Linked DNA regions of Homo sapiens: region 2 is linked to region 1. Evidence: fine-mapped expression QTL. Tissue or cell type: whole blood. Region 1 holds a variant in brackets; the other region holds the start of a gene. All regions are shown on one strand. Distances are between the middles of the regions.

The links. PIP is the estimated chance that this variant, and not a neighbour inherited with it, causes the effect.
Region 2: it holds the start of USP22, and the variant in region 1 is fine-mapped to the expression of USP22 in whole blood (TOPMed, PIP above 0.99).

What each region holds. Positions count from the first base shown.
Region 1 is chr17:21,021,461-21,024,368 of GRCh38, reverse strand. All of the region lies in intron 2 of USP22 (ubiquitin specific peptidase 22), which reads left to right. Among named protein-coding and RNA genes, the nearest start is that of USP22, 20 kb to the left of the region's middle. The variant C/T (reference allele first, on the strand shown) is at 1,388.
Region 2 is chr17:21,041,500-21,044,407 of GRCh38, reverse strand. USP22 (ubiquitin specific peptidase 22) reads left to right here and starts at 1,397. Exons shown (of 13, transcript NM_015276.2): 1 at 1,397-1,743. The coding sequence starts at 1,573. RefSeq lists enhancers at 1-626, 627-1,576 and a silencer at 1,112-1,711.

The DNA.
Region 1 (2,908 bases):
AGGCCTAAATCTAGAAGGATTTACATAGGCACTGGAATGGTGATCCGTCTTCCCAGGCTAGAGTTTTTGTTGTCAGCTACATGTGTGGGCTGTTTTTCACGGGATATCTTGGCCTTACTGTAAATTCTCATCACCCTTATTGTAAACTTGTCTCTGTCAGGATTTCTCTGTGACGTCCATGTGCTGGGGCTGTACTGCTGATGAACAGGAAGTGGCAAAGGTTGATGGCTGAGCTCTGCGACAGCTCCCACCAGGATTTTAACATCGTTGTTGGCATTTTGTGAATTTTTTGAGTAGGGCAGAAGGTAGCCCTGGGAATCTTAAACTGCTGTTTTGAGTTTCAACAGATCTGCTTTGGAAGACTTCAAAGATTTACCACAATATAAGTCGTAGTAGCTTAAGACCTGAAATAGAATAAAACTGTGGTGTTCCAAGACTTCCCTGTTTATCCGGGGATGCACTTAAGTTATATACTAACCTAATCATCACACAGCTCTGGGAAGCACTAGTACCGTTGCTATCAGCATCTTACCGCAGGGGAAACTGAGGCTCAGAGGTGTGGAGTAATTGATGAAAGGTGCACAGCTGGCAGGTGGCATAGTGAGGGCTGGTGCCAGTTACTCTCAATCCATGGTCTTTCCTCTGTGCTTCGCTGCCTCCCGGGTGTCTGACATCACGTGGATTTAAGCCCCACTCTCCCAATTTTTTTTTTTTTTTTTTTTTTGAGACATAGTCTGGCACTCTCGCCCAGGCTGGAGTGCAGTGGTGCAGTCTTGGCTCACTGCAGCCTCTGCCTTCCGGGCTCAAGCCATCCTTCCACCTAAGCCTCTTGAGTAGCTGGGACCTTAGACACACACCACCACACCCGGCTAATTTTTGTAGAGATGGGGGTTCACCATGTTGCCTAGGCTGGTCCTGGAACTCCTGAGCTCAAGTGATCCACTCACCTCAGCCTCCCAAAGTGCTGGGATTACAGGTGTGAGCCACCACGCCGGGTTTCTCTCCCAGTTTTTTAAAAAATATTTTAACTTTTATTTTAGTTTCAACGGTACATGTGCAGGTTTGTTATATAAACGTATTATTCAGTGGTTTGGTGTACAGTTTATTCCCTCACCTGGGTATGTACTGTAGTACCTGACAATTTTTTTTGTTTGTTTTTCCTGATCCTCTCCCTTCTCCCACTCTCCACCCTCAAGTAGGCCGCAGTGTCTGTTGTTCTCCTCTTGTGTCCATGTGTTCTAATGGTTTAGCTCCCACTTATAAGTGAGAACATGTGGTATTTGGTTTTTCTGTTCCTATGTTAGTTTTCTAAGGATAATGACCTCCAGCTCCATCCATGTTCCTGCAAACGACATGATCTCATTTCATTTTATGTATACATGGTATC[C/T]CATGGTATATATGTACATTTTCTTTATCCAGTCCACCATTGGTGAGCATTTAGGTTGATCTCATGTCTTTGCTATTGTGAATAGTGCTGCGATGAACACACGCATGCATGTGTCTTTATGGTAGAGCCATTTACCTTCCTTTGGGTAGGTAATCCTGGTTCATTTGGTTTTTTTTTTTTTTTGAGACGGAGTCTCGCTCTGTTGCCCAGGCTGGAGTGCAGTGGTGAGATCTCAGCTCATAGCAAGCTCCGCCTCCCAGGTTCACGCCATTCTCCTGCCTCAGCCTCCTGAGTAGCTGGGACTATAGGTGCCTGCCACCATGCCTGGCTAATTTTTTGTACTTTTAGTAGAGACGGGGTTTCACCATGTTAGCCAGGATGGTCTCAATCTCCTGACCTCGTGATCTGCCTGCCTCGGCCTCCCAAAGTGCTGGGATTACAGGCGTGAACCACCACACCCGGTTAACCCCAGTTGTTTATAAATTGTTGAATGGAGAGAGTACCTTTTTTCAGGCACTCAGAGGACTTTATCTTACTTACTTTTATGATAAAATAATTAAGAGCCCAAACTATTAGTCCTATTTTATTTTATTTTATTTTTTTGACTTTTTACAAATTATTACTTTTAACAAAGAAAGCAAAAGTGGATCTTATTTCCATAAAATAAAGGTTTATGTTGACAATTAAAAACTGGACATGCACACGATTAGAAAGTTCAAACGACACGAAAATGTATACTTCTCCCCAAAGGAAACGACTGTGAACAGTTTCTTGTGACTGTTTTAGAAAATTGAAATTTATACATACATATGTATCTCTTCTTATTTGTGAAAAGAATATACTAGTATTACTATAATTTTTTTATTTTTATTTTTATTTTTTGAGACAGAGTCTCACTCTGTTGCCCAGGCTGGAGTGCAGTGGCAAGATCTTGGCACACTGCAACCTCCCCTTCCCAGGTTTCAGCTGTTCTCACGCCTCAGCTCCCCGAATAGCTGGGGTTACAGGCGTGTGCCACCATGCCTGGCTAATTTTTTGTACTTTAGTAGAGATGGGGTTTCACCATGTTGACCAGGCTGGTCTTGAACTCCTGGCCTCAAATGATCTGCCTACATCGGCTTCCCAAAGTGCTGGGGTAACAGGCATAAGTCACAGCTCCTGGCCTATTAGTCCCATTTTTTAGAAGATGCAGTTGAGAAATTGTGGTAGAAGACCCACCTTCAGGCAGCTCTGGGTCAAGATGTCAATCAAAGTCATCCGATGAGAAACTATTTTCCCCCTGTACTTAAGGTAAGAGTAGCAAATGCCGCCAACCACAAAAGTCACAGCAAGTTGCTGCCACATTCTTTATGGTGATGGTGTCAGGAATTCTAGATGGAGGGAAGCATAGTCACTCCGTGTCAGGTGGCCAGGACTGAAAATATCCAATGCAGTTGTACCAGTTTTAAATACCACGCATTCAGAGAAGGTGGCAGAGGTCCTGATCCTGGAGTATTGGCTGCTTTGAAAAGTATGTATGGG
Region 2 (2,908 bases), 20 kb before region 1:
GGGGGTAGGGAAAGCATTTTAGGGAGAGGGTACTGCAAGCACGAAGGCCATGAGGCAAAAACCTGTGCTCGGCAATTTGTCTTGGCCACAAAAGCTTTATCCCAGTCGTCAGTCCATTAAACCCTGTAGCTTTAAGTGTTGTGAGATCACAATCTTTATTTTTTAACTTGTGATGGTTCTGGACGGCAATTGCTGTTTCCTGCAATCTGTGGATGAATGAATGAGCAAAGCAGTTAGCAGCGGGATGAGTACAGGGGAGCAGCTCCACACCTGACACCTTATCCAAGTTCCCCCAGACCCTTGGCGCCCTGGTTCCCCCAGAACTTCGTTTGCATTCGTCTTTAAATGTCTTCTCAGTTTGCCTTGGGTCAGTTATTTGTATACCGATTAGACCTGTGCCGCCCACTGCGGTAGCAGCTAGTAGGAATTGGATGTGCTTTAAGTGTAAATACCAGATTTCCAAGACTTGCTGCAAAAACTGTAAAACATTCCACTAACGATTTTGCAATACTGCCTACATGCTGAAATAATTTGACTTTATTGGGTTGAGATATATTACTGTAACTTTCTTTTTTCATTAGAAAAATGTAGCCACTAGCAAATGTGAAGTGTCAGGCGTGTGGCGCGCAGATGCCTCTTTAAACTGGATGGCGCCGGGTTGGCCCTCACTATCAGCGGGCTCCCGACAGGAGGCGCCCCAGCTTGCGGCCGGGGGCAGCGCCTACCAGGCAGTTGGCAGGCAGTTCCAGCCCCGGGCCACGGCACTGCAGGGCCCGAGCCAGGTTACGGCAACCGGGGGCCCTGCAAACAGCTCCCGATTAGGGGGTGCTTTTGGGTGGGAAAGCGCAGGCCCTGGATGGAGGCCCGACCTGCGGCGCTCCAGCTCATCGCCCCGCCTCTTTGCGGCAGAGCTCAGGCCGGCGCAAACCGGTTCAGTGCTAGGACTGACGTCTCGCGCCGCCCAACCGCAGCACGCCCCCGCCTCCCCAGTCCTCTGGAAGAGACAGGGAACGTCTAGCCGCCAGGGTCCCGGGAGGCGGCTCTGTACCAGACGGACTATACTGAGAGCCTATGACAATAGCCGAAGGTGCCGGGGGGGGGGGGGGGGTGGCCTACTACCAATAAAGGAAGGGGAGGGGCGGGCCCTCGTTAGCTTCCCCCCCCTACCACGCTTCCTCGGGCGCGGGTCTACCCAGAGCCTAACGGGCGCGCGAGTGTGGGGGAAGGGCCTGGCGCGGGCTGGAGACTGCGCAGTGCGGTGCCGGCCGGGAGGGGGGGGGGGGGTGACGTAATCTCCGTCCGCGGCCGCGGCGCCCCGCCCCGCGACACCCTCCGCGAACCGCGAGAGCGCAGCGCAGGCGGTCCGCAGCAGCCGCAGCTCGGGGGCGGTGCCTGCCTTGCAGCCTCCCCTCGGCGATCGCGCAGCCCCATCTTTGTCCGGCCTCCGCGCTTTGTTCTCGGCGCCCGGGCCTTGGCCAGCCTGGCCAGCCGCCGAGCAGCCCCCACGCCGCGCTGGCGTCGTCCTCGCCTCCCTCGCCGCCGCCCCCCGCGCGCGGCCGGGCCTTGCCCCCCATGGTGTCCCGGCCAGAGCCCGAGGGCGAGGCCATGGACGCCGAGCTGGCGGTAGCGCCGCCGGGCTGCTCGCACCTGGGCAGCTTCAAGGTGGACAACTGGAAGCAGAACCTGCGGGCCATCTACCAGTGCTTCGTGTGGAGCGGCACGGCTGAGGCCCGCAAGCGCAAGGTGCGCCCGGCAGCCCACCGCGCGGCGGGCTCGGGGCCTTCTGCCGCTCCTGAGGCCGGCCGGCGGAGGGGCCCTTTTCCTGCCCTCTTCCCTTCCCCCGTTGCCTTTCCCTGTCCTTCCTCTTCCTCTCTCCTTCTGCCCTCTCTTCTCTTTACCCCTTCCCCCTCCTTTCCTTCCCCCCTCAACTCTCTCCCTTCCCTTATCTCCTCATCTTCCTATCCTTCCCCTCTCCCCCCTTCCCCCATTCTTCCTTTCCCTCCCCCTCCTCTCTGTCCCCTCCCCCTCCTCTCTGTCCCCTCCCCCTCCTTTCTCTCCGCCCTCCCCCTCCCTTATCCTTCTTGGCCCGGGAGGGGCGAGTGCTTCCGGGCCGGGGGTGGTGTTCTCCTGCCCTGCTGCCTGGGGAGCCTGGGACTTCGGTGGGCGGTCCCGGGCGTTCCTGCGCGAGGTCCTTGCGGGGAACTCTCCTGGTTCTGGAGGGTTCGGGGCTGGATGCGGGTGCAGAGAAAGAAATATTTCAAAAAAATGAGTAAAGGATGGGGGGCTGTCGAGTTCTGGGCGTTGGTCTGCAGCGGTCACCCGCCGCCAGGAGCGACCTTGGACGGGAGCTGGGGCAGGAGGCGGGCTGGGGGGCGCGGGGCCGGAGCTTCGCGGCTGCCTCGGGGCCCGCGAGGAGCTGGAGGTGGAGGGCGGCAGGGGCTGGGGCCGGGGCGAGCCTGTGGGTGCGGAGCCACAGCCCGGGTTTGCGTTGCGGCTGAGGAGTAGACTTGGAAGCGCGCCGTGGGCTGTGGGAGGCCTTAACCAGGAGTGAGTCCCCTCGGGGAGCCCAGTCTTGCGTCCCGCAGTTAGGCTTGGTAAGGGTTTGGAAATCAAAACGTAACGTGATTCTTCTATGTGAATAAAGTTTATTTTTACAGTTTCACGCGCTTTTGTAGATTACAATCCGAGATTGGGAGTTGTGAGGGCAGTTTCCACCTTGAGTGGCATTTTTTTATTTATGGGAATACCAACAGGCTCGCTGAGATTGTAGGGTATGTTAAGCAGTAATTCAAAAAAAAAATTATTTTTTTGAGACGAAGTCTCGCTTTGTACCCCAGGCTGGAGTGCAGTGGCGCGATTTCGGCTCACTACAATCTCCGCCTCCCGGGTTCAGCCGATTCTCCTGCCT